2 separate regions of the Homo sapiens genome follow, and region 1 is linked to region 2. The links come from fine-mapping of genetic effects on gene expression. A gene starts in region 2. The other region holds a variant in brackets. All regions are shown on one strand. Distances are between the middles of the regions. Region 1 overlaps KIN (Kin17 DNA and RNA binding protein). Region 2 holds the start of KIN (Kin17 DNA and RNA binding protein).

The links. PIP is the estimated chance that this variant, and not a neighbour inherited with it, causes the effect.
Region 1: its variant is fine-mapped to the expression of KIN in subcutaneous fat (TwinsUK, PIP 0.95).

The regions. Positions count from the first base shown.
Region 1 is chr10:7,755,546-7,760,545 of GRCh38, reverse strand. It overlaps KIN (Kin17 DNA and RNA binding protein), which reads left to right. Exons shown (of 13, transcript NM_012311.4): 12 at 556-656; 13 at 4,404-5,000. The coding sequence ends at 4,466. Among named protein-coding and RNA genes, the nearest start is that of KIN, 30 kb to the left of the region's middle. The variant A/T (reference allele first, on the strand shown) is at 3,020.
Region 2 is chr10:7,785,830-7,790,829 of GRCh38, reverse strand. It overlaps KIN (Kin17 DNA and RNA binding protein), which reads left to right and starts at 2,837. Exons shown (of 13, transcript NM_012311.4): 1 at 2,837-3,010. The coding sequence starts at 2,897. ATP5F1C (ATP synthase F1 subunit gamma) reads right to left here and starts at 2,653. Exons shown (of 10, transcript NM_001001973.3): 1 at 2,567-2,653. The coding sequence starts at 2,622. RefSeq lists enhancers at 1,569-2,112, 2,565-2,884.

The DNA of each region.
Region 1 (5,000 bases), 30 kb after region 2:
TACTGTACCAGTTTGTTTATCCAGTTATCTGTTGATAGACATTTGGCTTATTTACAGCTTTTGGCTGTTAAAAATAAAACTGCTGTGAACATATACGTACAAAGCTTTGTGTGGATATCTGGTTTCTTTTTTCTTGGGTAAATACATAGAATGGCTCAGTCACATGTTAGGTATAAGTTTAAATTTTTGTAAAACTGCCAAACCATCTTATGAATTTTGCAAAGAGACAAAGTAAGCTAAATTGTCTCTGATTACTTCTGGACTCTGAACATTTTCTCCAAGTACCTTATATTCTTTGCAGTCTAAAAGTAAAACATACATATTCCTTTAACAAATAATTGGGGGAAAAATGAGAAGTCTTATAATGTTCGAGTAGTGAAAGTATCCATACACCGCACTAAAATACTACACACTTCTTAAATGATTGAGAACTTCTAAGAAAAAGGGTTTTGTTTTTTATTATGTTTATTCAGTGTAGTACATTTTGCTGTAACAAGTTAGAAGAAAAGTGGAGATATTTCTTCACATTAATTTTTATATTCTTTTCCATCATAGGAAAAAGAATTCTAGTTTTAAATGGAGGCTACAGAGGAAATGAAGGTACCCTAGAATCCATCAATGAGAAGACTTTTTCAGCTACTATCGTCATTGAAACTGTAAGTTTGTTTACACAAAGACAGAAATTTCAAAATGCTTTAAAAATGTGCCATAGTTTTTTTTAATTGGATTGTTCTTTATTTTAGAATTTGAGTTTTTTGTTAGCCTTCTATCCTATTTGGAAATCTGTAAGCTTATTTTCTCCAGTGACTCTGCCATTGCTAAAGTATTTTATTTTCTGATTATAAAAGAAATGTGTACTCATGCATAAAACCCCAAAAAACATAATTTAATATAAATAATTATAAAAATTAATCATAGTCCCCCAGCCCAACAATAAACCCCATTAATATTTTGGTCTGTTCCTTTCCAATCTTGGTGTTTTATGAAAGTGTGTGTAATAGGTACAGTTTTATATCCTTTTTTCCCCTCATATCGAATATAAAACTCAATTTGGCATAGTAAAGTTAGTGGGGGAAGTAAAGTCATTGTCAAGAGGGAGGGAACCACAGAGGTCAACCACTTTTTAAAATGTCTCCCCTTTTTTCATAAAGGATTTAAGGTAGCAGAGATCAATACAGTAATTTAAAGAACTCTGACTTATAAATAAAGTTGGTTATTGACTTAGAACTGATATTTCACTCACAGGTCTGTGAGTGAGGTCTGAGATATCTTCAGAAAGAAAGTTTCCTTTTAGAACTCTGAACTACTGCACTGCATATCTTTGATGCTAAACAAAAGAATTTTTTATCTCCAGTACAGTCAGTTTTAGTATTTCTGGGGGAGCTTGGGAGTAATAGCTCACTTAGAGAGTTTAATGAAAGTTTAGACTCTTCAAAACATTGCACATAATTGCCAAATTTTATTTGTTCTCTTGGGGAGTTTATAGGCCCCCTAAGCCCATGGACCTGTTAGAGAATATGTGTCTAGGAAGGTTTTCTGGAAAAACCATTTAGGTCCTTATTTGAGAGAATTCTCATTTCAGTAAATCAAGCTTTTCTCCTTTTTTTTTTTCTTTCTGATCCTGACAATGCTAACCTAGAAGCTGTTACTTGCTAACTGTTACTAACGTAAACTAAGGGGAAGAAAGGGAAAAAGGACTCCTACTTGGCATTGAGGAACATGTCAGTCTGACTAAATTAGCAGATTGAGTTTTAACAAAAAACTCTATAAGATTTTCTCTGACTCTATCAGCATAAGGCAGTAGAAAATCCAGTATTTCCTTGACAACTTGCTTATCCTTCCCTTATTAATTTCTTTTTTTTTTTTTTTTGCATGGACCATGCATGAAACTTACCTTATTAATTTCATAGTGCTATCAAATGCAGATCCTGTTTCATGTTTTCATCTCAGGGAAACACAAAACAACTGATTACTGTTGAGGCTGTGTTGAGTTCCATCTCGATACCTTTGGTTCGCAGGTTGTGTCCATTCATCAAAAACTAATTTCTCACCTTCTGCACTGTAGACCCAGTTTCATCTTCTGTACTGAGGTAGAACTTAGCAGCAAATCCACATGAAAAGCCTTTCTGTTTGATTGCAAAGCAACATGTACTTCTTTTAGAAGAGGGAATCTACCAGCTTGGCATGGTGGCTCATGCCTGTAATTCCAGCACTTTGGGAGGCTGAGGCGGACGAATCACCTGAGGTCAGGAGTTCGAGACCAGCCCGGCCAACATGGAGAAACCCCATCTCCACTAAAAATACAAAAATTAGCTGGGCGCGGTGGCAAATGCCTGAAGTCCCAGCTCGGGAGACTGAGGCAGGAGAATCGCTTGAACCTGGGAGGCAGAGATTGCAGTGAGCCAAGATTGCGCCACTTACTCCGGCCTGGGTGACAGCGAGACTCCGTCTCAAAAAAAAAAAAAAAGGGAATCTGTCTCCTAATTTTTTTTTCTTCCTTTCTTCAGCCTGTCCTCATTAAAAAAAAAAAAAAAATCTCTGTATATGCTTGTGTCATCACTTGAGCTTTGCAAGTGGTTATTTTTATCATTTCTGGCACCTTAAGTTTTCATGTCGTTGATAATATTTGAAATTTATACATATATCAAGCAGATTTTTAACATCCAATAAATTGTTCCTAAATAGCTTCAGCTTTTTAGCTATTTGCCCTATAAGCCCAAATGTCTGGCTCCCTTCTTATTCTCCAGATTTATGGTACTTATCAGAAAAATGTAATTGACCATAGACCATTAAACATGATAATGAAAAATCTAACCTAGGTTATACTTTATCTGGGAACTTAATTCCTTTAAATATGATAATTATTTGTTGTGAAGGGAAGCAGTAAAAAAATGTTAAAATCTCAGTTCTAGGGTTAGAGTCATCATCATTGTCATCATCATTATTGTCATCATCATCATGTTATATTTTGCAAGGGAGAGGATTAACTGTCAAATTTAATTTTAATTTTATTTAATTT[A/T]ATTTTATTTTATTTTATTATTTATTTTCAAGACAGAGTCTCACTCTGTCGCCCAGGCTGGAGTGCAATGGCGCGATCTCAGCTCACTGCAACCTCTGCCTCCGGGTTCAAGAAATTCTTCTGCTCCAGCCTCCCAAGTAGCTGGGATTACAGGTGTGTGCCACCATGCCCAGCTAATTTTTATATTTTTAGTAGAGATAGGGTTTCACTATGTTGGTCAGGCTGGTCTCAAACTCCTGACCTCAGGTGATCCACCTGCCTCGGCCTCCCAAAGTGCTGGGATTACAGATGTGAGCACTGCGCCCGACCCAACTCTCAAATTTTAAACAAAAGATTAAATAATAATTAGAGTTGAAAATTATTGAGCTCTCACTCATATTAAGTTCCAGGTCTAGTCACTTTATATGAAATAACTCATTTATATTTCCCAACAACCCAATCATACAGACATTACCATTATTTCCACTGGGAGATAATAAGGCACAGAGAGGAAACTGAAGGACAGAGAGGTTAAATCAATTGTTGAAAGTGAGATTTGAACTTGGGGAGTGTAGGTTCACAGCCCATATTCTTAGCCTCTGTGTTCCCAGGTTATATCCGCTTTTGTGATAGAAAATATCTTTCATTAATTAAGTTTTCCTCTTTCCCTTTTTGTTCGATATGAAAGAAGAAAATAAAGTTAAAGTTGGACTCTTTTTATAATCTGGACCAGTGTAACTATCACAGCCAACCTAGACAAACATGTTTGAGTATCGTAATGCTTACAAAATGATATTTCCTATAAAAAAAAGAAAACCCCAAATGGACAATGGCACAAACATGGTAGAAGTTAACGTTTCACTCTAAAAACCCCAAATGGGTATTTTTGATCAGGGAACTCTTTCTAAGTGGCGATTTGTGAACCCAGGGTCCTTCCAGCTAGTGCCTCTACTGCCCTCAAGTGGCATCTCCAGTTGCCATGTCTGTGTGCACTGGGCAGGCAAAAGGAGCTTGGCAGATTGTGTGTCAGTTATAGCACGTCTGGACCGTCACTTCTGTTTGCTTTCATGGGCTGGAGCTCCATGCATGGCCACAGCTAACCACAAGGGAGCCAGGAAACTGGCTATTTATCCAGGAAGCAGAGGAGATACTGAACAGCTTGCAGGTCTCTGCCACAATGTCTATTGATAACGTATGTCAGATGTCACAGAAGAAAATATGGTAGTTCTTAATGAGAATGCCATAGATTATTCTTAAAATTCATAGATGTATACAAATGTTAACAATCTTAATGGTATTTTAGGGATGCGGAAAAGGCAAATTTGTATCCATAAGTATGGTGTCATTTTTTTGTCTTTTAGGAATATGTGTTTTTAACCTTATTTTAAATTATTTTAATTTGTAGGGCCCTTTAAAAGGACGCAGAGTTGAAGGAATTCAATATGAAGACATTTCTAAACTTGCCTGAGTTTGAAAATTTGTTAACAATACATTAAAATCTTAAAGCATCAAATTGGTGTTCGCCAAGGCATTATGAGACTCTACTGTGTTAGGGTATATTCTTTTGTATAAAACAAACAGGTTTTTGAAAATATTACTGTATAGTTGTTCAGCTAAACTTTGAGAAGAATTTAATTATGTCTCATGAGGTATCAAACTATGTAATTTTGTCCTTGTTATTTTTGTTTCCTTTGTAATTTACTTGATGAGTTTATATCTTCATTAAAGAATGTTATTATAAAGTGTTTTATCTATGACAATTTAGAATCATGTAATTGGAGGAAATCCTTCATACACTCTATATTTTCAGTAGTAGAGTAGTAAAGTTGAACTCTAAGTGTGACTAAATTTTAAATGTCAAACTATAAATATAGAAGCAGCTTTATTGTGGTAATAATTCATATACCATACAGTTCACTCATTTAAAATATACATACAATTCAGTGGTTTTTAGTATTTTTGCAGAATTGTGCAGCCATCACCACTGTCTGATTTTAAAACA
Region 2 (5,000 bases):
GCACTTTTATTGCATATATTTGACAGATGAGGAACTGGTGGGACAGACACTGAGTAACCTGCCCAAGGTCACAGAGCTGCTAAGTGGCAATCAGAATTCAATCCCTGCCGTCTGAATGCAGCCCTTCAGGGCTGGCTACAGAGTCTCTCTCTTCATACAGTACTACACTCTGCTGCCTCACATTTTTTACATTTATTAGTAAATATCTGCCCTCATGGTCTCAGATGACAATTTGTCTTTTCTCTCCTGAAATGCCATCTCCTTATCGGTATCTGTAGTTTATGACTACTGACACGTTATTAAAAAACAGTTCCATTTTAGAGACTACTGAACTCTAAGAAATAGAAATGTTTTTCCCAAATTTGAAGACAGTAAAATCCGGGATTCTTTCTCTCAAATTTTTAATTTCCATTTTCTTATATGCTGCTTTAAAAAAAAGGTTTAATTTTCAAAACGTTAGAGTATTTTGCCGATACCCTAACAACTATTAAAATAACCACTGTGAATTTAAGTAAGCCTAATGTTTTTATGTTAGCATGGTAGCCTCTCTGAAAACAAAAACTAAAATAACAAATTGTACTTTAAAAAACTTCCAGTAATCAAGACAGAAGCATGGAAATATGCCTCTTCATGGTTCGTTAAGACAAAGGTCTTTTCTTCCCCTTCCAAATTAATTCTGTGGAGTGGTTTTAATTTCTGAATTCAAAAGGCAATTATAATTCATGGAAAGAGAAATGGCAGAAGAGGAAGGAAAGACATTAAGCACCAGCAGTGAAGGAATACATGAAAAGAAGAAGACAGAATATGCTTTCATAGTGGAACACTGTTGATTGATGATTTATAAAACCAATATTCCAAAGGGATTAAGGTCAGGATTAGGACCTTTATATGCTGATTGTGGTTCCGATTTAAGCTCCTAACAGTAGTTGTCTTGAACTGAGAGCTCTTATTTAAAACAATCCTTCACTAAAAGAGCTTCAAATTATCTTACAGGTGCTTTAAAAAAAGATATTTCTAAAATTTTTTGTAAAATATTGTCTTTGTTTCAGAAACTATTTCCACTTTTTTAAAGATCAACTTAGAAACTAAGGTTGTAAAAATACTGACAGATAACATTAATGCGTGGCAAGAAGGTAAGGCCAGGAGAGCTGATGTTCGCAGAGCACCACTGCATGCCAGGCACTGTCCCAGGAAACTGACTGAGACCTTATCTATTTGCTCACCATCACATTTGGGCACTTTCCAAGTACCACCGGGTGGAGTGGAAGCACTCAGCTAATGTCTGCTGAGTGGTTAACAAGTGGGACAATCTATACAACTGAGAATTCAACTACAGTGACCTTTTAATTCCCATGAATGTTCTTTTTCCATATTAGAGAAAAAAAAATCTGACTTCCAAGGCCAAGCCACCAAAAATTTTATGTGGCTAATTCACATCAGATATCATTCTGAAAATCTCGTATATTACTATCAGTTATTTGCTTAATGAAAAACCTATTTATTTCAACTAATGCTTTATGGTCCCTTCATATAAATTAGGATACGAAAATCTAGTTTAGCACTGTAGCGCCTTAGAAATCCTCCACACTGTTAAGAGCAGGGAATTGCTACGACACAGCCTAGAATCCCCTTAGCAGCGTGTCTGGAATTCTTCCAGATTCCGTCAAGCTTCAAAACTGAACAGCACCACCCACAAACCAACTTTTACCTGCCCATTCCCGGGCCTTCTAATATGCACTTCCCCCAGCCCAGGTCCCCCTACCCGGAACTAATGTTTAAAATTCTCGAGGCTCGTGGCACCCTTTAGTTGCATGTCAGTTAACAAATGCCACTTAAAAGCCCACCGAACTCCTCCCCCAGGACCTGGGGGCAATTTCATGACCTTGCAGGGTTACGGTTTCAGCAAGTGGTTTCAAGGTAGTGCTAGGTGTCCTTCCCTTCCCCGCCCTCAGACAGATCTGTACGGTCCCTTCTGCACCAAAACCACCCTCAGAGGCATCTAGGATGTTCGCCTTTGCTGTTGCAGCACCCAGCAAAGCGTCTGCAACACGGGAGGTGCTCGACGGCCGCGCTCTCTGACTCGATCGAATCTTAAAGGGTCACTCTGTCCAGCACTACAGGGTTTCAAAGGGCGTCAAGGACAAAAAGCACGACTTAACCTTCCCCTGGGCTATTGCTCAGGCTCCCGTCACCTTGCAGGCCCTGAGACTGGGGGCCTGGCTTGCAGTGGAAGTGGAAGCTCAGGAAGTGCTGATTAGCTGAGGGAACTCAAGACCGCCCAGACGTCAATTTGGACTCAGGCCGCAGTCCCGAGGTCCCAGGTGGCCCTCCGACCTCAGGGAACCGGGCGGGACCTTGCTCCGCCGGAGCCCGGCCCTGCGCACACCTTGCCCGACCTCAGAGCCGCTTCCTGCAGCCCCCGCTACCCGGCGCCTCCGACGGGCCAGGGGCCCAGCTAGGCCCTGCGACCCCACATCTGCCCCCGCGCCCATCTCCTCCTCCCTGCCCCGTGCCCAAGCTCTTCCATCCCTTGCGGTCCTGCCGATCTTCCCGCAAGCTGCCATACCATTGCGGCTGCAAGGTCCAGGCCGACAGCCCAGCGACACCCGCGCGAGAGAACATGGTAGCCACAGCCCTGCTGAAGGTCGGTCAGGCAGGCCTCAGCGCGCATGCGCCGAAGCTCCCCAGCGCGCCCCTCCCACCTTGCTCTCTTCTTCAGTCTCGTTTCTTCGCGCTACGGCGAGGGGAGTCTCGCGACCGTTGCAACCCAGTCTTCCCAGGCCCCACCTCCTTCCGCCTCTCAGCTGGGATTTGTCCCGCCCACCGCCGCCAGCCCGGTTCCGTTTCCGGCTGGCTGAGTACTGGGGTCCAGAAAGTGATCGCTGCCGTGGTCGCCATGGGGAAGTCGGATTTTCTTACTCCCAAGGCTATCGCCAACAGGATCAAGTCCAAGGGGCTGCAGAAGCTACGCTGGTATTGCCAGATGTGCCAGAAGCAGTGCCGGGACGAGGTGAGTGGGCCCGGAGTGGCCCCGTCTTCCCAGGAGGGCCCCTGGCAATCCAGGATCAGGTCCTGGACGCGGGGCTGAGGGCGCGGGGCTGGGGCTCCCGGGGTCCGGGTCGTGAGGCTTCTGAGGTCTGCAGTGGGCGAGTCAACTACTCAGCGCACGAGAGCCGTCCCTCCCCGCAGCCCCCGGGCCCAGCGGGCAGCCTGTGTTCTGCGACCCCTCATTCCTCCCCAGTCCGATCCCCACCACCAAAGAAATGAAATCAGAAAAGGTTTTGCACCCCTCACAGGGGCGGGGATACTGCAATACTAGACGCCCGGGCAATGCCAGTAACAGTCATCAGCTCTTACTTGACTTGACTCTTAAGAGAAACAGGGTGGTTAGGATTCACTCCTCTTTTGGGATCAGGTGAAAAAGGAGAGCTAAGCTCTTCCACACTACTCATCTAGCAAGCATTTATTGAGCACCTACACTGTACCGGGCACAGAATAATATTGTGGTTAAAATTATGGATTTATCTGGTTTATGGATATATCAGACTGTCAAAATTTAAAGTCAAGCAGGGCCACTTACCAACCGTGTGGTCTTGGGCAAGTTATTTACTTATATTCCCCTTTACTTATCTGTAAAGAGGGAATAATAATTTCACCTACTTGTAGGATTGTCGCTGAGTTTTAAATGAGTGAAGTATATATAGAGTGGCTCAAGGAGTCTGGGCAGATCTCGAAAAGCCTTATATGGCTACACTATGGAATTTACACTTTTCCCCATTAAAGAGGTGGTTGATTGAATGCTGTGCAGGCTAGTGATGTGATCATATTTTTCTCCGGAGATTGGACTGGATTGGGTAAGGGTGGAAGAACACTGAGGCAATTGGAATAATCTAATCCAGTGTTTCTGCAAGTGAAGGAAGAGGTATTTTAGGTAGGACTCATACTAATATTGATACAGTTACTCTCTTTAGTTCTATTAAGGAATACCTGTATATGCATTATCTAATGTCTTAGTCTGCTTGGACTGCCATATAAAGTGCAGTAGACTGGGTGGTTTAAATGACAGAAATTTATTTCTCACAGTTCTGGAGGCTGGGAAGTTCAAGATCAAGGTGCTGGCATGGTCAGATTCTAGTGAGGGTCCTCTTCTTGGTTTGCGAAACTGCCTCTATCCTCACAAAGCAGATAGAGCAAGCTCTAATAGAAACTTCTCTTCCTCTTTTTTTTTTTGAGATACGGTCCCACCCTGTTCATCATGCAGGCTCTACCCTTGTGACCTCATCTAAATCCAGTCATCTCCAAAGGCCCACCTTTTAATTCCATTCCCTTGGGGGTTAGGGTTCAATATATGAACTTTGAGGGGACGCAGACATGCAGTCTGTAACACCCAGACTTAACACTTTAAGTAATTTTGCCGTATTTACTTTTTAAAAAATATTTTAAGGTAAATACCAATATCAGGATATTTCACCTTTAAATACTTAAATAGGCATCTCTAAAATTTCAGGATACTTTTCTATATAACCATAGTATATGTCATCAACATAACACAATTAATAGAAGTTCCTCTTTATCATCTAATACACATTCACACTTCCTCAGTTGTCCTCCAACTGCTCCTTGAAATCAAGATTCGATCAAAAGCAATAGACTGTTATAGGTTTGGTTATTAGGACCTCCGCTCCCCTCTCCAGTCTCCCTCATCATCAACATCCTGCAACGAGGTGTTATATTTGTTACCATGGATGAAACTACATTGACACATCAGTATCATCCAGAATCCATAGTTTACATTAGGGTTCACTCTTGGTGTTGTACATCCTATGGGTTTTGACAAATGCATAATGATACGTATTCACCATTATAAAATCTCACAAAATAGTTTAACTGCCCAAAAAGTCCTCTGTGCTCTGAGTTATTAGGACTTTTAGTTTTCTCCAAATTTAATTTTCTCTATATTCTGAATTTAGAATATAACCCATTTTCCCTCCACCCCTTTT